3 separate regions of the Homo sapiens genome follow, and all the other regions are linked to region 3. The links come from fine-mapping of genetic effects on gene expression. A gene starts in region 3. Each other region holds a variant in brackets. All regions are shown on one strand. Distances are from middle to middle. Region 1 overlaps CRYBB1 (crystallin beta B1). Region 2 overlaps HPS4 (HPS4 biogenesis of lysosomal organelles complex 3 subunit 2). Region 3 holds the start of ASPHD2 (aspartate beta-hydroxylase domain containing 2).

Evidence for each region.
Region 1: its variant is fine-mapped to the expression of ASPHD2 in whole blood (INTERVAL, PIP above 0.99).
Region 2: its variant is fine-mapped to the expression of ASPHD2 in whole blood (INTERVAL, PIP above 0.99).

What each region holds. Positions count from the first base shown.
Region 1 is chr22:26,591,375-26,599,554 of GRCh38, forward strand. CRYBB1 (crystallin beta B1) reads right to left here. Exons shown (of 6, transcript NM_001887.4): 6 at 7,904-8,180. The coding sequence ends at 8,116. It also overlaps a transcript of CRYBA4 not described here. Among named protein-coding and RNA genes, the nearest start is that of TPST2, 5.3 kb to the left of the region's middle. RefSeq lists an enhancer at 1,409-1,558. The variant C/T (reference allele first, on the strand shown) is at 5,024.
Region 2 is chr22:26,462,835-26,471,014 of GRCh38, forward strand. HPS4 (HPS4 biogenesis of lysosomal organelles complex 3 subunit 2) reads right to left here. Exons shown (of 14, transcript NM_022081.6): 7 at 7,885-7,979; 8 at 5,717-5,789; 9 at 3,392-3,428; 10 at 2,621-2,717; 11 at 1,083-1,992. Among named protein-coding and RNA genes, the nearest start is that of HPS4, 17 kb to the right of the region's middle. RefSeq lists an enhancer at 8,126-8,180. The variant A/G (reference allele first, on the strand shown) is at 4,839.
Region 3 is chr22:26,424,508-26,432,666 of GRCh38, forward strand. ASPHD2 (aspartate beta-hydroxylase domain containing 2) reads left to right here and starts at 4,753. Exons shown (of 4, transcript NM_020437.5): 1 at 4,753-4,979. RefSeq lists silencers at 4,594-4,723, 4,844-4,903, 6,636-6,930.

The sequences.
Region 1 (8,180 bases), 170 kb after region 3:
ACAGGAGAATCGCTTGAACCTGGGAGGCAAGGGTTGCAGTGAGCTGAGATTGCACTGCACTCCAGCCTGGGCAACAAGTGAGACTCTGTCTCAAAAAAAAAAAAAAAAATGCAATCCCAGCACTTTGGGAGGCCGATGCGGGTGGATCACCAGGTCAGGAATCCAAGACCAGCCTGACCAATATGGTGAAACCCTGTTTCTACTAAAAATACAAAAATTAGCTGGGCATGGTGGTGCATGCCTGTAGTCCCAGCTACTCAGGAGGCTGAGGCAGAAGAATCGCTTGAACCCAGGAGGTGGAGGTTGCAGTGAGCCAAGATCGCACCACTGCACTCCCACCTGGGCGACAGAGTGAGACTCCGTCTCAAAAAAAAAAAAAAAAAATGAGCAGGGCATGGTGCTGCTCACCTGTAATTCCCCCTACTTGGGAGGCTGAGGCACGAGAATTGCTTGAACCCAGGAGGCAGAGGTTACAGTGAGTGTAGATCGCACCACTGCACTCCATCCTGGGTGAGTACACACACACACACACACACACACACACACACACACACAGAAACTAGGGCACACAGATATTAAGTAATTTGCCCATGGCCAGCCACATGTTCATTCATTGGTCATTCATTAATTCATTCATGTGTCCAATAAATAGTTAGTGCTTGCCTTATGGAAAATGCTGGGACTGATAAAGCTGCCTCCATGGAGCCAGCCATTACTGGTCTGGAAACAATACAACAACATTACATAGTGTTTATTGCGTGCATGTTAGAGACTTCATATGACTGATTTGATAGACACATAGATTAAACACCAGCAGGGTGTTTTATAATGTCCTTTTGTGGATGAAAAAAATGGAGTTCAGAGGAAGAGGTGTGAATGGGGGCATTTGTTTAATAACATTCTAGCAATGGCATTTCCTGAGCTCTCTATGCTAGGCACAGATTCAGCAGCTAACAGGGGGACAAAGGTCCAAGTTGGGGAAGCTAGATCCTTCAACAAGCCTTCACAGTAAAGTGAGCACCTGTAACTGATGAGGCAGGAGCAGCAGAGATTAACCTGGTCCAGGGAGGGAGGGCCAGGCGTGTGTATACATGCCAGAGGCATGGGTGGGGATCCTTGGAAGAGTGCACTGGTCACAGAATCTAGCAGGTGCAAAGGCCTAGCAGGAAGGAAGCGAGCCTGGGGCCTTGCATGAAGTGCAGAGTGGACAGGATGTGGTGGAGGTGAGAGAAGAGATCAGAGGTGTCTGCAGGGCTGGATGCTGCAGAGCTTTGTGGGCTGTGGGAAGGAGTCGGGGCTTTTCTCTTGCAGTGATGGAGAGACAGGGAAGGTGTTCAACAGGGGAAGGGCATGGGGAGCCTGACTTTCTGCAAAGATCCCTCTGGTGCTGTGTGAAGAAGAAACAGGCAGAAACTGGTTTGGAGGGTGTTGAAATAATTCAGGAACCCAGAGAGGGGATGTGGGCATGGAGGGGGTGTTTTGGTTCCGGAGAGGTTTGGAAGACAGAATTGGCAGATCTCAGTTGAGAGGCTAAGGAGGAGGATCAGAATGATCGTCTTGTTGTCTAGGTTGGGACTTCTCTCAGTACCCCTAGCTCAGTGAACCTTTCCAGGTCTCAATCTGTCTGTCACCTCCTTGAGGAAGGCTAATTGCCCCTCAGGACATCGTGGTGGACCAGACACCAGACTGTGCAGCCCAGGAATTTGATGTGACTTTGAAGGCAGACAAAATAATTCATTCCTCCTGTCTGCATCTTCAGCCGGGAACACCTAGAGCAGATACCTCTTCTGTCTTCCTCCCCAACCTATCTTCCCAGCATCTAGGCAAAACCCAGTACTTAAGAGGTTTTATCAAAAGCAGGAAGAATATTTATCAAAAGCAGGAAGAATAGATGTAGCATAATACACATTGATCCAAAAATTCTTTCCAGCTCTGACATTCAAGAGGATGAGGTTGATGTTATGTCAATAATTACACTTTAGGCCAGGCTCAATGGCTCACTCCTGTAATTCCAGCACTGTGGGAGGCTGAAGAGGGAGGATAGCTTGAACCCAGGAGATTGAGACCAGCCTGGGCAACATGGTGAGACCTTGTCTCTACTTTTTTTTTTTAATTAAAATTTTTTTAAAAACCATTTTATTTATTTTTATTTTATTTATTTATTTCTTTGAGACAGAGTCTCACTCTGTTGCCCAGGCTGGAGTACAGTGGTGTGATCTCGGCTCACTGCAACCTCCGCCTCCTGGGTCCAAGCAGTCCTCCTGCTTCAGCCTATTGAGTATCTGGGATTACAAGCATGCGCCAATATGCCTGGCTAATTTTTGTATTTGGAGTAGAGATGGGATTTCTTCATGTTGGCCAGGCTCGTCTCCAACTCCTGACCTCAAGTGATCCACCTGTCTTGGACTCCCAAAGTGCTGGGATTACAAGTGTGAGCCACCATGCCCAACCACAGAAAACACTTTATTCAGGTGCTTGCTATGTGCTAAACACCTTATAATTATTATATTCAAGCTGATCATTTACCCTCTCCAAGCTTTTGGTGTTTTATTATCATTACTCCCATTTTACAGATGTGGAAACAGAGGCTCCAGCAGGTAATTTGATTTGGCCAAGGATAATAGCTGGTAATTGTCAGAGCTGGAATGCAAACTCAGGTCTCTCTCACCCTTTCTAGTACACTGATAGAAGGCAGTGGCTCGGCAGTGGGCAGGAAGTAAAAGTAAGTGGGCAGGTTTTCTTCTCCTGCTGGAAGGGTGTAGTATTATTGTTCCTAGCTGGGGATCCAGGCTTCACAAAGCATTCGTTGATCCTAAGTATCTGACCCAGGCTATTGGCTGTCGTGGCAGTTTGGCTCTAAGAAGGCTCATCTCTTTAGAACCTCTGCAGGGCACCCTGGAACCATGTCTTTTCCCCAGAGCCCAGTTGCTGTGTATTTATCAGCATCTCATGCTGGCACAAAAGCATTCAATGCCTCTGGGTGATCCTCCTGCCTCCACCCCACATATACACACTGCCGGCGTTGGGCTTATGCTCCAATGTCTAAAAGATTACGGGTTGCCTCTTGTCGATGAGAATGAGAGCCGCTCTCTCATAATCAAGATGCTTTGCCTTTCCAAAGGCCTGAGACTCAAAGATTCACAAGCTGGGATCTATCTAGCTTTGAAACAATATGAAGTCCCCAGTTTCCTCAGGCATTGTATTTTAAAGCCAGTGCTTAGGGACACTCCTGCTTGAACCCGGGAGGTGGAGGTTGTGGTGGGCTGAGATTGCGCCACTGCACTCCAGCCTGGGCGATAGAGTGAGACTCTAGCTAAAACAAAAAACAAAAAACAAAAACCAAAACAAACAAACAAAAAGCCAGCATTTAGAGCCAAACCCATGCAGTCAAAATTGCCTTGGAGAAGCCCCCGAAAAGGCTGAAGGCAACATAGCCCCTTGGAAGTCCAGCTTCACTGGTTTCCGTCAATATTAAACTTGGACTCATCATGATTTCTGGGGTTGAGCACCTGATGAAATGAAACCTTAGTTTTAGTTTGAAGGCAAAAGTGTGGCTTATCTTTAAGCTCTGAAATTCTGCTCCAGGTGGTGAGATGCTCATGTTTTGAGAGATATGTTGAAACTAGGACCCATGGAAGGAACACCAGGTTTATGGTTCCTAAGTCACACTCACTCTCAGCCTTACTACATGTTATTTTCTTTAACTTGCTTCTTTTAGTCTCTATTCTTTATTTTTTGCTTATAATTTTATATGTCCTCCTTTGTTATTACAAGGCATTTTGTTTATTCATAAATTCATTAGCAAACAATACATTAAATATAAAATGACTTTAATTGTTATTTTCTTCTGGTGTTTATTCTGCCAAGTGTACATATCTTGTTTCAGTGATGCTAATATGCACATTTTAAAATGCCTGTGAGGCCAGGCGCAGTGGCTTACGCCTGTAATCCCAGCACTTTGGGAGGCCGAGGCAGGAGGATCAAGTAAGGTTGGGAGTTCGAGACCAGCCTGACCAACATGGAAAAACCCCCGTCTCTACTAAAAATACAAAAAATTAGCCAGGCATGGTGGCGCATGCCTATAATCCCAGCTACTCGGGAGGCTGAGGCAGGAAAATCGCTTGAACCTGGGAGGCGGAGGTTGCAGTGAGCCAAGATCGGGCCATTGCACTCCAGCCTGGACAACAAGAGCAAAACTCCGTCTCAAAAAAAAAAAAAAAAATGCCTGTGAGATGAAAGTGATCCAGAAGACCTGGACTCTGTGTTTTGTTTTTAATTTTTTGTAGAGATGGGGTCTCCCTGTGTTGCCCAGGCTGGTCTCAAACTCCTGGGCTCAAGTGATCCTCCCACCTCAGCCTCCCAAAGTGCTGGGATTGCAGGCGTGAGCCACCATGTATGGCCTTGTTTTTGTTTTTAGAGACAGGGTCTTGCTCTGTTCCCCAGACTGGAGTGCAGTGGCACATTCATAGCTTACTGCTGCCTGGAACTCCTGGGCTCAAGGGATCCTCCTGCCTCAGCCTCCACAGTAGCTGGGACTACAGGCATGCACCACTGCACCCAGCTTATTTTTTATTTTTTGTAGAGGTAAGGTCTCACCATCTTGCCCAGGCTGATCTCAAATTCCTGGGCTCAAGTGATCCTCCCACCTTAGCCTTCCAAAATACTGGGATTATAGGTATAAGCCACTGTGCCAGGCCAGAATCTGGACCATCAATGCAAAGAGTTTTTATTTTATTTTATTTTTGAGATGGAAGCTTGTTCTGTCGCCCAAGCTGACATGCAGTGGCACGATCTCACTGCAACCTCCACCTCCTGGGTTCAAGCTATTCTGCTGCCTCAGCCTCCAGAGCAGCTGGGATTACAGGTGTGCACCACCATGTCCGGCTAATTTTTTATATTTTTAATAGAGATGGGGCTTCACCATGTTGACCAGGCTGGTCTCAAACTCCTGACCTTAAGTGATCCACCTGCCTCAGACTCCCAAAGTGCTGGGATTACAGGCATGAACCACTGTGCCTGGCCG[C/T]AAAGAGGTTTTAGAACTGACTTAACTGATGAATTTCTAGTATGTTTACCTTTTATAGGACTTATCAGATTGATACACTGAAAAAAAATCTGTTAAATCTAAATAAGTTGAAAATAATTCTTTCAATAAGTATAAAAATTCTGAGTGATCAGAAAACAATTGTGTTATGTTTTGATTGGTATTATTTCTCTTTTTCCTCCTGGAATTATAAAATCATAGTGCATCTTACCAACAATAAGACCTTGAAGGTAAAGAACTATGGAAGTCAATTTCAGGGGGCTCATATGACTGTGAAGATGGACTCCACTGCAGTAGAATTTTAGAGCTTTACTCACAGACCTTAAGAACTTAGAATGGGGATCCATGTGGCTTGGCTTTGGAATCAGAGAATCACAGAAGCTTAGAGATAAATATCAGAACCTTAGAGAGTCATAGAACTTTGGAACCTCAGAATCTTGGGGCTGGATGGGTATTTGAGCTGTCGTTTTATAGAAGAGAAAAACAAGTCCCAGGGAATGGATGCAATTTGCCTAGTTCTTTCCAACTTCTAACAGTACAGCAGGGTTAATACCCTTTTATTCCCGATTTCTGTCCAGGAATCCTGGTCCGCAGACAGCCCTGTCTTCTAGTCCAAGATGCTGGCCAAGAGTGTTGAGGTGGGGAGAATGAAAGTGAGATGAGGGAAGGTGAGTGAGACCTGTCCAAGATTATGTGAGGTGGTGTCTCAACTTTGAAGCTCAGCAAAACCACAGGGTGGGGTGTCATGAGGCCCTATCTTTCTTGCCAGCTTTATCTCCTGACGTACAAGTGTATCCGTCCCACCCTGTGCTTCTGCCCACACAACCACCAAGCTAATGTTCCCACCTCAATAAGCTTCACCGGGGCCCACCACAACTCTCTCAACCTCTATGCCTTTGTTCATGGTGCTCCAGGGCTGCCAAGTTCAGCTGAGCATGTTGGGCACAGCACAAGGGTATCACATTTACATGGTAGACGTCCCAGATTTATACCAATAATTTCTAACAGATGGCAGTAAAATGTCTTGAGGAAGAGACATCTTTTTATCATTTGCACAAAGGTGCCATATGGGGTAGCGGGGACACTGCTGTTTGCTCTGCCTGGAATATCATCTCCCCTATTCTCCATCAAGCAAGCTCCTGCTCCATCTTTCAAGGCCCCCTTCAGATATTCCCTCCTCCAGGAAGATATCCATAGCAACCCCGACACCCCGTTCCACCAGGCTGTCTGCATAGATTAATGATTAATAACATCAATCAATATTAACTGTTGATATGGGAAACAATAGTGTCTGGCACAGATTTCCAAATGAGATGATTCCTGATGTACCCCAGCTCCAGGATTGAGTAACACTGAATCAGATACAAGAAAACGATGCTCTTTTCAACCTTTATTGATTAAATCAAGGAGGAAAAAAGTCTCAGTTTGGTGCAAACATCTTTCACACTTTTCTTTGTTTTGTTGGTTTTTTTTCTTCTTTTTTTTTGAGGTGGAGTCTCACTCTGTCACCCAGGCTGGAGTACAGTGGCGCAATCTTGGCTCACTGCAACCTCTGCCTCCCGGTTCAAGCGATTTTCCTGCCTCAGCCTCCCAAGTAGCTGGGATTACAGGCACCCGCCACCACAGCCGGCTAATTTTTTATATTTTTGTAGAGACGGGGTTTCACCATGTTGGCCAGGCTGGTCTCGAACTCCTGACCTCAAGTGATCTGCCTGCCTCGGCCTCCCGAAGTGCTGGGATTACAGGCGTGAGCCACCGCACCCGGTCCTCTTTCACACTTTTCAACACTGGCTAATCTCCCATTTTGTCGAAGAGTGAACAGGTTGCAGGCAGTGGTATCTGCTGGAAATTTGATACTTGGCCTTCTTTAAATTGTATTTGATTTATTTATACGACTGCCTGCTTCCTTCCTTCCTTTCTCTCTCTCTCCTTTCCTTCCTTCTCTCTTTCTCTTTCTCGCTCTCTCTCTCTTTCTTTCTTTGACAGGATCTCACTCTGTTGCCCAGGCTGGAGTCCAGTGGCATGATCACGACTCACTGTAGCCTCAAATTCCCAGGCTAAAGCCTCAAGTGATCCTGCCACCTCAGTCTCCCGAATAGCTGGGATTACAGGCGCACGCCACCATGCTGGGTTAACTTTTGGAATTTTTGTAGAGATGGGGTTTCGCGATGTTGGCCAGGCTGGTCTCCAACTCCTGACTTCAAGTGATCTACCCACCTCAGCCTCCCAAAGTGTTGGGATTACAGGGGTGAGCCACCACGCCCAGCCTGTGTGATTGCTTTCTATGTATATGATGCTGATTTTCCACTTCTTGGAGCATTATAAGGATTTATTTACAAATCAGTGCATTTAAGGACAAAAAATAAGTCTATTTAAATAAAAATATGTCAAAAGTAGACCAGGTGGCATGCAGACAGTGCAAAAAATCCTGAGGGGGGATGCTCAACTGGCTACAGTTTGAAAAAAATTTATAGATTTGTCTTGAAGAGTACAGGCTCTGGAGCCAGACAGCCTGAATTCAAGTCTTGACTTGCTAACTGTGTGACCTTGGGAAAATCACTTCCCCTCTCTGAACCTCAATTTCCTCATACCAACCTCCTGGAGCAGTCTTCATAATGAGTAAGGCCAAGTACTTGTCCTCCACCCCAACACATCCATTCAGGACCCAGAAACCAACCTGCCTCCTCTGACCTGCTGCACGAATGCCCTGGCTGGACCATCTCTTACCTAGTATCCTTGGACAGCATCTCACAGGTGTATCTGGGTTTCCCCTGCTAGGTGGAGCAAACTCCTTGACGGCAGGAACTTGGCCTTATTCATTTCTGCCTACACATTTGGTAGACTCACATAACAGGCAGAAAGAACTTTTCAGTGTTTGCTGCTTTTATTATCGTTGTAATTATTAAGAGCGAGGAAGTCACATCCCAGTAACTATGGGGGACCTCAAGGCACACATCTGTTTACAGATCCAGGAGAAATTTTGGCTTTAGGGAATTTTATTTGCCTGGGAAAAATGGGGGAAATAATTGAACATGAAGAAGGGTTGGGGCAAGGTAGCAGAGTGAGGTGTGGACTCACTTGGGGGGCTCTGTGGCCAGGACAGGGAAGGACCCCTCGAGGTGCCACTGCTTGTCACGCA
Region 2 (8,180 bases), 38 kb after region 3:
AATGAGCCATAACTCAGTGATCCAGCGTCTGTGGAAAGGGCACAGAGAAGCCTGACAGCTCCAGAGAGCATTCTCTTGCTAGGAGCTCTGTGCAAGGAAGCTGCTGTGCAGTCTTATCTCTTCTTCTGTATTTCAAGGTGACTAGCTCATTTATGGAGGGTCACAAGCCCTGCATGATAGTAAGATCAGCTTAGAATAATACACATTTAAGAATAAAAACAAGGAAAGCCCCAAGACACCATTTGCCCTGCAGCAATTTCAACCTGCTGTTCTTACTGCTACCACTTTCCCTGCCTACTAAAGCAAGGCTGTTACTATAGCAACGAATCTCCAGCGTGGGCCCCAGGGAAGGTCAGTTTACCACTCTAAGCCTCTAAGCGGGGAAGGGGCTGCAATAGTTTAAGAGCCCTCCAGAGCCAGGCAGGATTTCAGACATCCCAGCCTTCTAGGAAGGAGCTTCAGATCAGGTACGATGCTGGGGCTATGGAGGGAAACACTGGGTTTCTAGGGAACTCCCAACCCAGGCTGTGACACACTGCGGAGGAGTTTCCAGCTGACACAGAACCTAGAGCTGTCCAGGCTAGGAAATGAGGCCATGAGCAGGGGCGGCACAACACATGCACGTACGTGTGCAGTCTCTGCCTGCATTATCTCACTGCATCTGGAACAGGAAGGTCTACCACCATCCCTACGTGACTGAGGAGTTAGCCAAGGCTCAAGGGGACAAAGGTCTGTGGGCAAGTTCACACAGCTAGAGGACAAGGGCCAGGATTCCATCTCAGGCCTTCCCTTTCTCCAAGGCCTGCGCTCTGCAAAACTAGAAACAGCGGAAGAAGAGAACCAACACTTGTTGGATGCCAATGCACCACCAGTGCTATGCGCTTGACTCACTCTTACCCCCCACAAAAACCCACAGAGGCAGGTAATACCTCCATCGTCTAAACAAGAACGTCTTGCCCAGGGTCACACAACTGAGGGCTGAGCCTTTATCTCTTCCCTGGGTGTTGGCACAGTGCTGTGAGGGAAGCACAGGAGATCGGCAGAGGCCGCAGAGGGGCAGGAGAAGGTCTGAGGACACTCACCACTTCCTCTATGGCTGCGCTGTCTCCCAGCAGCGGCTCCTCAGCCAGCAGGGACAGCACCAGCCCTTTGACGCAGTGAGTGTAGAGATTCATCCTCACGAGCCCCATGCAGGACTCTGCTGGTGTCAGCCTGGAGCTGATTCCATCTGCAGAGGGGCCAGCACCCTGACAGTTTGCTGAGCCTGAACTGCATTCCAGACCAGGGGCTGCGTGGCTTTCACAGACCCCATCAACATCCTCATCCAGGCCTTGTTCCCCCGTGGGAAGCTTGTTTCCTCTCTGTCCTGGATCTAAGCGAGGCAATAACAAGGGCCTGCGGGTCCTTCTGGGGAGAGGGTCTGCTCTGGGAATGGGGGCTTGGCTGCTATGGCCAGGATGGTCTTCGAGCTGCTCTTGGGCTCCATGCTGGGTCAGCATCTCAGGAGCAGAGGGAGGGCGCAAGCTGCTGATGGCTGTGTCCTCAGGAGGCGTGGGTTCCAGGCTGCTGGAGGCGCTGAGAGATGCCTTGCAGTAAGGAGCCCTGCCATCTGGAACAGGCACATGTAGGAAGGCAAAATGACCTGAGGCCATTTCCACTTCCTGAGCCTCTGGAATGTGGATTTCAGACAAGTCGAGTTCTTCTTGGAGAAAGACTAGTTCCTTCCCCAGGGAGGAGCTGAGGCCAAGAACCTCACCCCTGGCAGAGTTGTGCAGTCCTGCGGGCCTGATGCTCTCCAGATCATGGCCAGACAAGCATCCGTTCTCCTTCCTGCCATCTGGACAAGCTTCGTCAGGGGATGTGGGATCTGGGGTGGTCCAGGCCATGGATTCCACATGGCCAGTGGCGTTTTCTTTCAGGGCAGATGTGCTCCCACCCTTTGGATGGTGCTGGGCTGAACCATCCTGGAGTCCTGCTGGAGATGCTAGAGACCTGGCAAACAAGAGAGATGTAAGGAAGGGGCACGTTGACAGACTGCAGGGCAAGTGCCCTTCCACAGTGAAGACTAAAGCACAGGCATCAAGGACAAGGGGGTGCCTGAGGCCACAGAGCCTAAGAGGCCACCAGAGTTAAATCACAAGAGTAAAAATACACCAACATCTGGCCCTTGGGGCTTTACGTAGTGACACCAGACTCACCTACTGAAAATGGCAGAGCCCACTGAATAAGACTGACCCACATCTGGAAGGTCTCCTACGCATCAGGCCCTATACTAGGTGCTGTACCTATACTATTTTCAAGTGTCACAATGAACTCATGAAAGGGATACTATTTTGTCTACTTTTCAGATGAAAAAACTGAGGCTCAGGCAGGGAATGGACTTGCCCAAGGTCCCATAGCTGGTATAAGTAAGAGAGCTGGGATATGAAAGCCAATGTCATCTCTCTATGCCACTCTGTTTCTTAACAAACTCAAGATTCAGATGCTCCTTTACAAGACAGGGCATGGGGAAGATGGAATTAAGGAACGATGGGATGTATCAGAGGTTTGTTTTTTAACCAATCACGCGATGGGGTCCCTCAGGTGTGGTGCAAGGTTAACTCTCTGTGCACTCCATTACCTTGTCATCTGTTCCACCGGGAACTCGTGGAGACTAATGGCTTCCTCTTTGGTCACAAAAACAGGGATAATCTGGACATTCGGGGGCAATGCCGCTCCTGGAATTGCAAAGCAATATGAACAGGACTTTCCCCTGAGCCAGAGAGGGCAGCGGGGCAATAGCTGCACTGGCGTGATGCATCCAACCCACACGTGGGCTCGGAAAGGGGTGCTGTGAGTGCATTCCTCAGCCAGGACACAGGTTGCCAAACTGCACCTCGAACTCCTGGGCCCAGTAAGGAAAGAGTCCCTGCAGGCAACATGACTCCCAGCTTTGGAGAAGGAAGATGTTCGGGAGAGAAAGGTTGAAAAGCACTTTTACAAGAAGAAGATATAAGCTAAGAAAGGGATCTGCTCCAACTCAGGCTTCAGAATAAATCGAAATAACTCTCCTGAGGACGCCTCCACATCCTGCAAAAGGTCTTTCTGGCAGTCGCTGTTTGCCTTACCCTCTCCCAATCACAATCTCCTGGCACTTGACCGAGCAGTCTCACAATATGAAGTTAAGGAGGGTCTGAAAGCAGGGATTTGACAGCATGCCTAAAATCATAGCTTTACCATTAGGGTTCTGGTGGGTAACTCGATTCTTGAAGCTCCATAACATCCATTTTCCTATTATGAGCAGAGGAAATAAACATGCAGATGGCTTGGTTTCCTTCGCATAACTTGTACAGGGGTAGGTAGCATAAAAGACCGCCGTTCTCAAGAGGCAACCATGCGCCTCACTACTTACCATGTTCCTGCGGGGCATCCTCTCCCGTAGGGAGTCTCTGAAAACAAACACACACAGAAGTTGGCGCTGGGCACCACATTCTCCTCTTGACCTAACCATCAGGAATTTGCTGTGCCATCTGTTCATAAAACTTAGCCAGGCCCAGAAAGCTTGTCCCAACCACATGCTAAGAGCCAAGCAGATGGAACAGAAGCTCCCCCAAGCTGCTGGCTCCCACTATGGCTGGGATGAAGCAAGAACCTGGGCCCACACAGGCTGCAAGGCAGCAGCTCCACCCAAACTCACATCACACTCTACGTTCTGATTTTCTCAGTCTCTCTCCCTTCTGGGAATAAAATTGAGGATTCCTGTTCTCTTTTACACCTTTGGGGAACTCATATTCTAGAATACAGTCACATCTGCCACAGCCCTGATGTAGAATTCACATAAATTCCATTATAATAAAAATGTCAAAATACTGTGACTCTCACGATAAAGGATTTGACTTAAACAAAATGCTATACCCAATCTCTCGTTTGTTCTGGTTCACAATCAGGGCCTAAAACCTGATGATTTTCTCAAAAATGAAAACATCTCTCGTTTCAATCTGAGGGTTCCAAAAGAACCCACCAAAACAAAACCAAACCAAACAAGAACTGCTCTTCTAGCCAAAATGACTTTCAATCTTAGAATGATATGGTGTTCTTCCTTTTTTGGTGATTTTTAAAAAACTATGTTTTAGATTACTAAGCCTAACCTCAATTTACTCTAGACAAAGCGTTGAAAAAAAAAATCACATACAATCCCTCATCCCCAAGCTAGTACTATTAATATTGGGTATTTTTTCCTTAAGCCTATGCAGTTTTTATACTTTTGAGGCCACACTATATAAAATTTCATATTTCTGCTTAAAACAGTAACACGCATTTCCTGCCACTAAAACATCTTTGGCCATTTTAAACGGCTGATTAAAATTTTATGAAGGTTTAAGTGATATGAGTAAATTAATCATTTACCTACCTTAGACCAGTAATTAGTAAACTTTCTGTGCAAAAGACAAGACAGTAAATATTTTTGGCTTTGCAGGGCATATGGTCTCTGTCCCACCTACTTGGTTCTGCTATTATAGCTCAAAAGCAGCCAAATAAAACTTCATTTGTAGGCAGGTGGCCCACAGGCCATAATTTGCCACCTCCTACTTTAAGCATTCAAGTTTTGTCTGATTTTTCACTTTCATAAAGCTTGTTGTGATCAAGTTTTGAGTATAAATTTTTTTCAGCAGTTACATTATTTCCTTAAGATATATTCCTAGAAGTCAAATTATTAGGAAAAAAATAAAGGGCATCCTTAACGTTCTCATTATCAAAGTGTTTCCCAGAAAGGCTACTTGAATTGACACCCATAGCCACAGTGGCTGAGGAGGCTGAATAGAGCCCTACCAGCATTTTACATGCCTGTTCACTAATAC[A/G]TGTAAAAAGACAGCCTCATGATACGCTGGAAACCACAGCTTCATACACAAAACAAAAAAAGGACTGGAAGGAGATATGCCAGATGCTGGCAGTGGCTATCCCTGTACAGTTCAAAGATGGGCAATTTTATTCTCAATGAGCATGCATGGCTTTTTTTTCAATATAAAAACAATTAAATAAATATAAAATGGAAGTATTTTAGAAGAGTTTGTTTTCCTTATTTTTTTATTTTTATTTTTATTTTTTGAGACAGAGTCTCACTCTTGCTACCCAGGCTGGAGTGCAGTGGCGCGATCTCAGCTCACCTCAACCTCTGCCTGCCAGGTTCAAGCGATTCTCCTGCCTCAGCCTCCCAAGTAGCTGGGATTTACAGGTGTGCACCACCACACCCAGCTAATTTTTGTATTTTAAATAGAGATGGGTTTCATCATGTTGGCCAGGCTGGTCTTGAACTCCTCACCTCAAGTGATCTGCCCACCTCAGCCACCCAAAGTGCTGGGATTACAGGTGTGAACCACCGTGCCCAACCCCCTAAATCTTTCTAAAGACACATCCTTTACAGTCTGTCTCTGAAAAGTCTAACATCTCTTTGACATAAAGAGACATCAAATTCTTATGGGAAGTCGAATTCAACCAAGATTTCCTTGGTTTGAAGAAAAAACAACTATCCAGGCCTAGCTCGTGGAAGAAAACATTTTCTTTCAGCCTCACCAATGGCTTCACTACTGAGGAGAATGACATTGGAGGACTTGGGGTCCTGACAAGACCAAGTGAAACAACTGCTCCACGGCCTCTGCTCCTGATCCCTCCAGCCTCAGGCTCAGTGACCAGTGCTCTGGGGGATGCTGTCCAGCCAGGTGGGTGGACTTTACAATACCTGCTCCTGAGGTGCTGTTCGGTGAAGCAGGACCTTGGCGGTGAGGGAGGGCGGGAGTTGGGTGCTGACAATCCTAGGAGGTCACACACAGAACAAGAACACCATGAGACGAAATACACCAAAACACTCCAAATTTTAAAGATGCCTAACAGCCCGTGTTGACGAGGATCTTGGGGACTTGGCTGGTGGGAGTTTCAACTGGTAAAACCCTTACAGAGGGCACTCTGGCAGTTCCTACCAACATTTAAAATATCCAAACCCTTTGACTCAGCTTGTACCAAGATGTATGCGTAAGAATATTCATTACAGGGAGAATGGTAAAAACAATTAAAAAATGAGTAAACCACCAAAATGTTCATCAACAAGACAGTAAAGCACAACACAGCCAGAATCCCAAAAAGTATGCAGTCCTCATAAGAATGAGGTAGACCCATATGAACCGGTAAGGAAATCTTCACTGTATGCGTTGAGAAACCATGTGATCCTATTTAAGGAGATAGCAAAAATAAACAAAAGCAATATATGCATACATGTACCAGTGGGGACAAACACACAGAAAGAGCAAGATGCCCACCAAACTGCCAATGGTGAGGACAGGTTAAGAGTGAGGGAGAGGCTGGGCACAGTGGCTTACTCCTGCAATCACAGCACTTTGGGAGGCTGAGGTGGGAGAATAACTTGAGCTTAGGAGTTTGAGACCTCCATGAGCAACATAGTGAGATCCCATCTCTACAAAAAAAAAAAAAAAAAAAATCAAAAGCTTGGCCAGGTGTGGTAGCAAGTGCTTGTTGTTCCAGCTACGTGGGAGGATCACTTGAGTCCAAGAGGTCGAGGCTGTAGTAAGCTGTGTTTATGCCACTACACTACAGCCTGGGCAACAAAGCAAGACTGTGTCTCAAAAACAAACAAACAAAAATGGTGAAGAAAGAAGGGGGGCTTTTAAATTGTGCTCTGTGTGTTCCTCTATTGATTGATTTGTTTACAGTGAAAATGTATTCATGTATTAGCCGTATAATGTAAATACAGGCTGGGTGCAGTGGCTTATGTCTATAATCCAAGCAGTTTGGGAAGCTGAGGATCGCTTGAAGCCAGGTGTTTGAGACCAGCCTGGGCAACATAGCAAGACCTCGTCCCTACAAAAAAAAAAAAAAGAAAAAAAAATATATATATATACATTTAAGAAATGCAAAATGAGAAAAGGGGAAAAAAAATACTGTCTTTGGTGGGTATGTCACTGACGAACTTGGAAATCCCACAGCTGATTCAGAACCATCATGATAAGAACCGGGGCAAGGAAGAAGAGTGCAAAGCCCACCAGGGTCTATGCTCGGTTCTTCCGCATCTGTCATCTCATTTCATTCTTCACAAGGGATGTCTATTTCCCAGAAGAGAAAATTGAGGCTAAGCAACTTGCCCAAGGCCGCATGGCTGGCGAAAGAAGGGAGGATCTGGGGCCGAGCCTGTCTGGCCCAAGGGCCCCTGCGAGAGCCTCAGTGCTTCTCCATTTACACAGTAGTTGCCTGCTCCTCAGGAAGCTCCGGGCACAGCGCAATGGCCCTGCCTGCCCTGGGCTGTGACAGCAAACCCTCCATGAGGAGAGAGGCCTTAGATGACCTAGAGTGGCTCTTGGGCACTCAGATTCACCAAGAAGCCCTCCAACTACATGAAGAAGTGAAGTGAATTCTCAGAGGCCAACCAAGACACTGGCCCAGCCAAGAGGCTTGAAGGCAGCTGGATAAGGGCCTGTAAGGCTGCTTTGCAGAGCTGAGCTGAGGCAAGCACACCAGGGTCTCTGGGCAGCAGGAGGAGGGTCACAGCAGGCCCCTTCCATGCCTCTTGACTACAGTGCTGGCTGCTGGCAACGCTCGGGACTCTGCATTAGCATTTTGCAGACTGACAACTATTCCAGCATGCCCCATACTGAGAATTATAGGGACATTCTTAACTCTTTTCTGAACACAACTATTTCCAATTTCTCAGCTTTGCTCAAAGACAGGTACACACCTGTCTTTCTAAACTGAGTCAAATCTAAACTACCTGATATTTGCCGAACCAGCCCACTTGGAACTGGCCAGAGACTGGGCTCCCCACTGTGATCTGGAGGTGGCTGATGGTCAGTTGTGCAGCAAGGGAATGGGGCTGGAAGAAAGGGGTCTGGAGTTACTCACAGTCCTTTATAGAGGATGCAGCCAGCGAGAATGTGAGGCGAGCGCTGGCAGGTCTGCAGAATGCGGGCTGCCTTCAGCAACAACAGGGGCTCCACCTGTGCAGGGCAAGAGGCATCATGCCCACCCATCAGCATGCTCACAATCAGGAAGGGAGAAAAGGGGAAAGGGTTGTACAGAACAGCTGGACAGGGTGTAGCTCAAAGCCTGGAAAAGGAGAATGTGTCACACAGTGAAAGCTGTGCCATGGCTTGGGACTATTCTACCTCTCTATACTCAGAACTGCTGACACCACTAAA
Region 3 (8,159 bases):
CCGTGCCCGGCCTAAAATTTTCTTATATTCCCAGTTTTCTAGGAGTTTTAATCATAAATGGATGTTTGACTTCTGTCAAATGCTTTTTCTGCATCTGTTGAGATCATGGTGTCATTCTTCTCCTTTACTTTGTTAACAGAATGAATTCTATTAAAATACTTTCTGATGTTGAACAATTCTACATTCTTGAAAAATAATATTTAATGTGAATAAAATTTTTCTTTTATTTAAATTTTTTTGAGACAAGCTCTCATTATGTTGTCCAGGGTGGTCTTGAAATCCTGGTCTCAAATAATCCTCCCACCTCAGCCTCCCAAGTAGCTGAGATTACAGGTGTGAGCCACCATGCCCGGCTTTAAAAACCATTTTAATATCACAAATAACATACTAATACTTATTTGTTAAAAGTGAAACTTACTTTTTAAAAGTTAAAAGTTAAGCTATTTCCAAATATTTGCAAATGCAAAGCGTATTCCTGAAAAGATGAATAAGAAATTTGTTATAATGGCTGTCTTCACTAAAGAAAACCAACTGGTTGAGGGATAGGAGAGTGACGCGGTCCCAGTAACTTTCTGCATGTTGTTCCGGAGTATTTAAACACCTTTGAAAATATTAAATTAAAACATCACAAAAAATGCTGGAGTTTCCCTTGCCTACTGCTCCCAATTCCTTGTTCCTTCTTGGTCCCCCCTGAAGTTACAACTCTTAGGAATTTGGTGTGCTTCCTCTGAGGGATATTATCTGCATTTACAAACGTAATTATTTTGCATTTTATATAGGAGAACATACTAGTGTGTTCTTCTAGTGCTTTCCCTGCTTTTATATAAATACATGTGTATACCCACATGTGTACAGGTGCGTGTTATGTAGATAAAATCATACTACAATCATAATTCTGCTTTTTTTTTAATTTTCACCCTATTATTTTTCTAGGAGCTTTATCCACGTTGCTATATATACATCTAGCTCCTGCTTTTAGTAGCTTCACAGTATTACGTAATATGAAAAAACAACTAGTCTTCCATCTATCCCAGAATCCCTCTAGGTTAGATATAGCATAGCGAAATTGTTGGTTTCAGTGTATACATATTTGTTGTTGTTTTAAGGAATACTACCAAACTGCTCTCCAAAGTGATCATACCAGTTTCTTTAATGCACCAAGCAAGCACATCTCCCTCCCTCCCTCCCTTCTTTCTTTCCTTCCTTCCTTTCCTCCTTCCCTCTCTCCCTCCCTCCCTCTCTCTTTCTTTCTTTCTTCTTTCAGAGAGTTTTGCTCTGTTACCCAGGCTGGAATGCAGTAGTGCAATCTCAGCTCACTGCAACCTCTGCCTCCTGGGTTCAAGCAATTCTCCTGCCTCAGCCTCCAGAGTAGCTGGGACTACAGGCGTGCACCACCACACCTGTAGTTAATTAATACAAAAATTAATACAAAACTTTTTGTACTTTTAGTAGAGACAGGGTTTCAACATGTTGATCAGGATGGTCTAGGACTTCTGACTTCAGGTGATCCACTGGCCTCGGCCTCCCAAAGTGCTGGGATTACAGATGTGAGCCACCACGGCTGGCCGCAAGCACATTTTCCACTGACTTGCTGCAACCTTGATTGAGCAAGGCATGTTTTCTCTCTGGGCTTCCATCTGTAGGAGGAGGGAGTTGAGTGGACCCCGTGAGTGTATGAGACGGTGTAATGATAGGTTGTGTAGTCTCGGAGTGGGTAGGATGACTGCGCTAAAGAAGGCAGCGAGAGCAGGAGGATGCAGGTGGCAGCCAAGCTGAAGGCAGGCAATTCAGATGCCCTTGGTCCTCCTCTCCGCCTCTCCATGAGCACAGTAACAATTTATCTGGAGCTCTCACCCAAAATCCCCCTCTGAAAGGCATGGATATCCTTTTCTGCAGAATTCACCTAGTAGGGTCTCCAAGGGGTTGACAGAGGCCCAGGTCATTTCCATTTATTGAGACTCCCAGCTAATTAAAAAGATGAAGAAATGGTAAGCAGGGCTAACAAAATTGCGTGTATAGTAATATTGCCATTGAACAAATAAATACTAACAAATGCAGAGCAGTGGTCTACAGATATCATATAATTGCACTGGTCAAGGACACTTATAGGATTGATAGACAATATTAATTCATAATACAGTACAGATAAGATGGTGCAGGAATGGAACACATATTTACAATATAAAAATATCTTTTTTTTTTCAAACCTGCCAGGATAATGCTGTGATAGAATGTATGACTGCCTTTGGAGAATTCTAAGTTTGAGCAACTTTCTGAATGTGAGATGAGTCAAATACCCCCCACTCCATTTTCTCCACCCCACCCAGGCTCAACCACTCTTAGGCTGACAGTGAAGACAGACATCCCATTTAATGTTTCTAAATCTGATGCCTGTGTTGATTATCCACACTTTGAGCAAATCTGTGCATATTATGGTTTCCCAATGCAAGTGTTTTGGTTTATTTTAGTAGAATAAAAGAGAAAAAACATTCTTCCTCTTTTGGAGTTGAGAAAAGGAGAGAAATGACAGAGATGAAGAAGAGTCTAAGACATGGAAGAGGTGTATTCTGGGACATGGGAGAGGTGTACTCTGGGACATGGAAGAAGTGGGTTCTGGGACATGACAAACTGGGTTCTGGAACAGGGAGGAGGTGGATTTTAGGCTATCACAGTAGAGGCAGATTCTTAGGTCAGGGACCAGGTGGATTTTGGGACAGAGATGAGAGGTGGGTTCTGGGACATGGTGGAGGTGGGCTCTGGGACAGGGAGGAGGTACATTCTGGAACAGGGTGAAGGTGGCTTCTGGAACAGGGAGGAGGTGGGTACTGGGACAGGGTGGAGGTGGGTCTTGGAACAGGGAGGAGGTGAGTTCTGGAACAGGGTGGAAGTGAGTTCTGGAACAGAGAGGGGGTGGGTCCTGGAACAGGGAGGAGGTGGGTTCTGGCACAGGGTGGAGGTGGGTCCTGGGACAGGGAGGAGGTGGGTCCTGGGACAGGGAGGAGGTGAGTTCTGGAACAGGGTGGAGGTGAGTTCTGGAACAGAGAGGGGGTGGGTCCTGGAACAGGGAGGAGGTGGGTTCTGGCACAGGGTGGAGGTGGGTCCTGGGACAGGGAGGAGGTGGGTCCTGGGACAGGGAGGAGGTGAGTTCTGGAACAGGGTGGAGGTGAGTTCTGGAACAGAGAGGGGGTGGGTCCTGGAACAGGGAGGAGGTGGGTTCTGGCACAGGGTGGAGGTGGGTCCTGGGACAGGGAGGAGGTGGGTCCTGGGACAGGGAGGAAGTGCGTTCTGGAAGAGGGAGGAGGTGCGTTCTGGAAGAGGGAGGAGGTGGGTTCTGGAAGAGGGAGGAGGTGGGTTCTAGAAGAGAGAGGAGGTGGGTTCTGTAGCAGGAAGGAGGTAGGTTCTGGCACAGGGTGAAGGTGGGTCCTGGGACAGGGAGTAGGTGGGTTCTGGAACAGGAAGGAGGTATGTTCTGGAACAGGGTGAAGGTGGCTTCTGGAATAGGGAGGAGGTGGGCTCTGGGACAGGGTGGAGGTGGGTCCTGGGACAGGGAGGAGGTGGGTCCTGGGACAGGGTGGAAGTGGGTCCTGGGACAGAAAGAAGGTAGGTTCTGGAAGAGGGAGGAGGTGGGCTCTGGAAGAGGGAGGAGGTGGGTTCTGGAAGAGGGAGGAGGTGGGTTCTGTAACAGGAAGGAGGTGAGTTCTGGCACAGGGTGGAGGTGGGTCCTGGGACAGGGAGGGAGGTGGGTTCTGGAACAGGAAGGAGGTACGTTCTGGAACAGGGTGAAGGTGGCTTCTGGAATAGGGATGAGAAATGGATTCTGGGACAGACATGAGGTGGCTTCTGGGCCATGTTAGAGATAAATTCTGGGACACAAGAGAGGTGGGTCTGGGACAGAGACAGATGGATTGTGGGCGGGCCATCCTACTCTATGCTCCCAGAACCCACCCATGCAGTTTCCCTGGCGCCCCTAACACATCCCGTAGCCACTGTTAGTCTCCCCCAGGTCTTAGCTCAAACGTCACCTCCTCCAAGCAGCCTCCTTGGGGCCTCCATTCGCAGCTCATCAGTCCCCTGGTCAGACAACCGTCCTGCCTGTACTTCCCCTCCTAAACCCTACCCGGGGGTGAGGGTCCCCTCCCGCTAGACGGTGGCTCACTGAGGGCAGGGCGGGCCTGAGCGCTCACCGCGCACGCTCAGCGCAGCTGGCAGGGACGGGGACCCAGGCTGGCCCATCATTACTGTACTGAGCGAATGAGTTTTCCATGAGACTAAGAATCTGGTTTGATTTGCGGTTCCATTCCAAGTGCCTGAGGGCCTCAGAAGTCCGTGTTGAGTCCATCAATAAAGGAAAGAAGGCGTTAGGGCGAGAGGAAGTGAGGTGGGGGGGAAGTGAAAGAGAATGAAAAGGAGGAAATGGAGACGAGGGCGACTCAGAGAGGAACAGAGAGACAGAGGGAGGGAGAACTGAGAAAGACACAGAGCGAAAAACGAAAGAGCGAAGGAAGCGACGCGAGCCTTTCTTAATGAATGACTGCACGCCCGTCGCCGCCTGCGCGCAACCTCGGGCTGGGCGGGCGCTGCGTCTCGGGGCGCACTGCCAGGACCCTCCGGAGCGGCGGCGGGCGCGGCCTCGGGTCGCCTCCCGCACTGCGAGCGCAGGTGCCGGGTGCAGGGGGGTCCCCGGCCCCGCCCCGCAGGCCCCGCCCCCCCGTACCCCCTCCCCCGGCGGCCCAGCGCGCGCGGCATTGTGGGAGTTGTGGTCTTCGCGGCCCCGCGGAGCGCAGCGCGGCGTCGGCACCGGCAGGGGCACCGGCGCGGCTTAGGCTCGGGCTCGGGCTCCGGCTCGGGCTCCCGCGGCGTGGGCTGGGCAGCAGCCAGGCGGCGGCTCCGCGGCGCCGGGCAGGGGCCGTCCGCGGGTCCGCGCCCTCGGGCGGCGGCGTCTCCTGGGTCCCGGCAGCCGTCCGCGCGCCCGGGCGCAGGTAAGCTTCGTCTCCGGGGGCTGCCGGGGCGGGAGGGCGGCGCGGCTGGGCCGACCCCAGGACAGGGGTTGGAGGCGGGAGCCCGGCAGCTGCAGGCCCACGGCCCTCCCTTACCGGCGCCGCCGCCGCCGCCGCCCCCGCCGAGGATGCTCCGGGACCCGGGCGCCCGCATCCCGGCCCGGCCGAGGCCAGTGCTCGTACGTGCTAAGCGCCGCCGCCTCGGAGCCGGGCATCACCCTCCCTAGACCTCCTCCTACTCCTCTTCCCTGCCCCATCGTGGTCCCTTCCTCCATCTCCCTTCTCCCCTGTGACCCCTCTTTCCTCACCTCCTGTCCCCTCCCCCAGCCCTCAGCATCACCCACTTCCCATATTTCACGTGGTGACCCTCCTCCCCTGTCCCACGAATTATGAGGCGCCATAAACCTCCTTCCACAATCTTGAGCTGATCGTCCACTTTTCCGGGCAACACTCACCTTTCCATCGTCCCATCCCCCTCCTCCCCTGACCTCCTGGTGGTCACCATCTGTGCTAACCCATCTTCAGCCCTCCCCTCTTTCCCACTCTCCAGGGCAGGTGGGTGCTGAGAAGCTGGCCAAGAGAGGGAAGGTCCCCAGGTCTGCACCGGGAAGGGCTGGCCCCACGGCATCTCTCTGGCTCCTGAGTGGAGAGGGTGACAGGCATCACACACCTTGCCCAGTGCTGCTCACTGGGGGGCTTCCAGGGTGACTTGGCCTCATCCTGAGGGTGAGCAGACACTCTTTGGCATTAGGCAGCCTCTGGGAATGGACATCTGAACTAGGCTGACCAGGTCAGGCCTGACACCGGCTCTCCCAGGTGTTCATGGTGTGAGAAGTTGTCTTGGATTGGACTTGCTCTCCAACTGGCCATGGATTTGGACTCAATTCCCCAGAGCCAACTGAGCTGGAAGATCTGGGGTTGCTTATTATTAAAGTGCAGAGCTGCAATGAGATGTCCCCATCCCTGATGAGGACAGAAATAACACAGATGACAATGAACAGATGTGCGAAGGAAGCTGGAAGCTACTGTGGTCACTGGGCAAGGAGCTGTCGGGGGAGAGAGTCTCTCCTCTCCCCACTGGGTAGATGGGGAGTTGTCACTAGGTAGCTGTGAGGATCAAATGTTTGAAGCAGTGCTTAATAAACTGCCAGTCACTCTGCAAATGTGTTTCTTTTATTGTCATAGTTCAGCTTTGAGCTTGTAAATCCACCTCCGGGTGCAGGGGCCTGTTGGCATATTTTGGCTAAAAGTGACTGACAGGTATGAAAAGTCCTAACTTGAGCTCTCAGTGCTATTTATGATCTCGGGAGGAGGGTCTGAAGCTGGGGTTCAGAATCTTTTACATTCTTTTGCTTACAGCTCAGCCTTAGGGAGGGCTCATGGCTGGCTTAGTACAGAAGGAGGCTTTCCTGAGAAGAGTACAGGGCTGGGGTGTCCAGTGGAGAGGTTTCTCCATCATCCACCCTGTTTTCTGTGTCTGCATTTTGCTTGACTTAAGTGATCAGCAGGGCTGATGGGAACTAACACTTTACAGGTGCTTGTTAAATTATCACCGTCTCACTCTTAGAACATTTAAGAAAAAAACCTTTCCTCCTGACAGACTCAGTTGAAAAGTTCCAGTAGGGGTTTAGCTCAGTGATGGGGGAAATCCTTTTAGTAAAAGTGCTTGGTGTCACATAGATGATTGTTTCACACTGAATTTCAGGAACTCTGAGGTTCTGTTTGGGAGATGGCTTGCAAACAAAACATCTTTCATCTGGATTTTCTTTCCTTTTCCTAAAGAGTAACAGCTGCCAGTTTATGGTCTAACAAGGAGAGAAACAGGGGGCTGAAGGGGTTTCTTAACCTCCAGTGAGTCATAGCCTTTTCCTCTTCTCCTGAATCTGAGAAGAAATTGAGAATGTGTGGGAAAGAAAAAAAAAAAAAAACAAAAGAAAACAAAAAACAACTTAGCTTCTAACCTCCCCACTCTTGTATTTTTCCTAGAAACATAAAAAATTTCCATGAATATTCAGCATGTGTGTTTTTGACTTACTAAACATTATAGTCAAGTGATTATTCAACCGAAACTGGGAAAAAGCAAGTAGGCAGTTAATGAGCACCTAAGGTTTCCCTTTCATTTTTAGCTTAGCAAGTCTGGGGACAAAAAAGCCACTCAATACATGAGGCAACAAGAGTGTCCAGGATTTACCTTTAACTGTTGGAATTCCGAGTCTTGCTATACCTTTCTCTCGTGCCCCACCTTTGGAACGCTGGCTACTCATTATGGGATGCCACCCATCCTAGCCGTCGCCTGCATATATTGGGTGCTCATTATGACGTGGTCGTAAGTGCTGTCCATCCGCCATCATTCATCTTCATCCAGTGAGATGAACACGAACCCCATTTCATGGATAAAGAAACTGAGGCAGCCAGGCGCAGTGGCTCACGCCTGTAATCCCAACACTTTGGGAGGCTGAGGTGGACGGATCACCTGAGATTGGGATTTCAAGACCAGCCTGACCAACATGGAAAAACCCCATCTCTACTAAAAATACAAAATTAGCTGGGTGTGATGGCGCATGCCTGTAATCCCAGCTACTCAGGAGGCTGAGATAGGAGAATCACTTGAACCTGGAAGGTGGAGGTTGTGGTGAGCCAAGATTGCACCATTGCACCCCAGCCTGGGCGATAAGAGTGAAACTCCGTCTCAAAAGAAAAGAAACAGGCTTAGGAAAAGCGATCTGCCCAAGGTTGGGATGAATCCTCAACTGGGCCCATCTCTAATCTGGCTTCTCTCTGCTACGATGCTGCAAGAATTTTCAGGCCAAATTTCAGTCCCTGGGTAAAGGGAGGGTACAACTTTTCCATTTTTTAAGCTGTGAGAGGGTAGAGTACAAAAGGGATATTTGAAATTGTGCTCCCTGAGTATCAGACTTGTAGAAGCAGAGACCTGGCTGTTCTCATTGTATTAGAAGAAGCAGGATGAACAAAAGGTTTTGGAGAATGCTGGGAAACACGGCTGGGGTTTGAGAGACTTAGGCAGCATGACATTCAGGCCCTTTTAGGTTATTAGGACAATGAGAGTTCCGGGCTCTGTCCCTAACCCCCAGCTAGGTAAGTGGCAAAGCACTTCTGGCTGTTTTGGAGATGCTGTCAGCTGTGGGAAACTGAGGCAGAGGC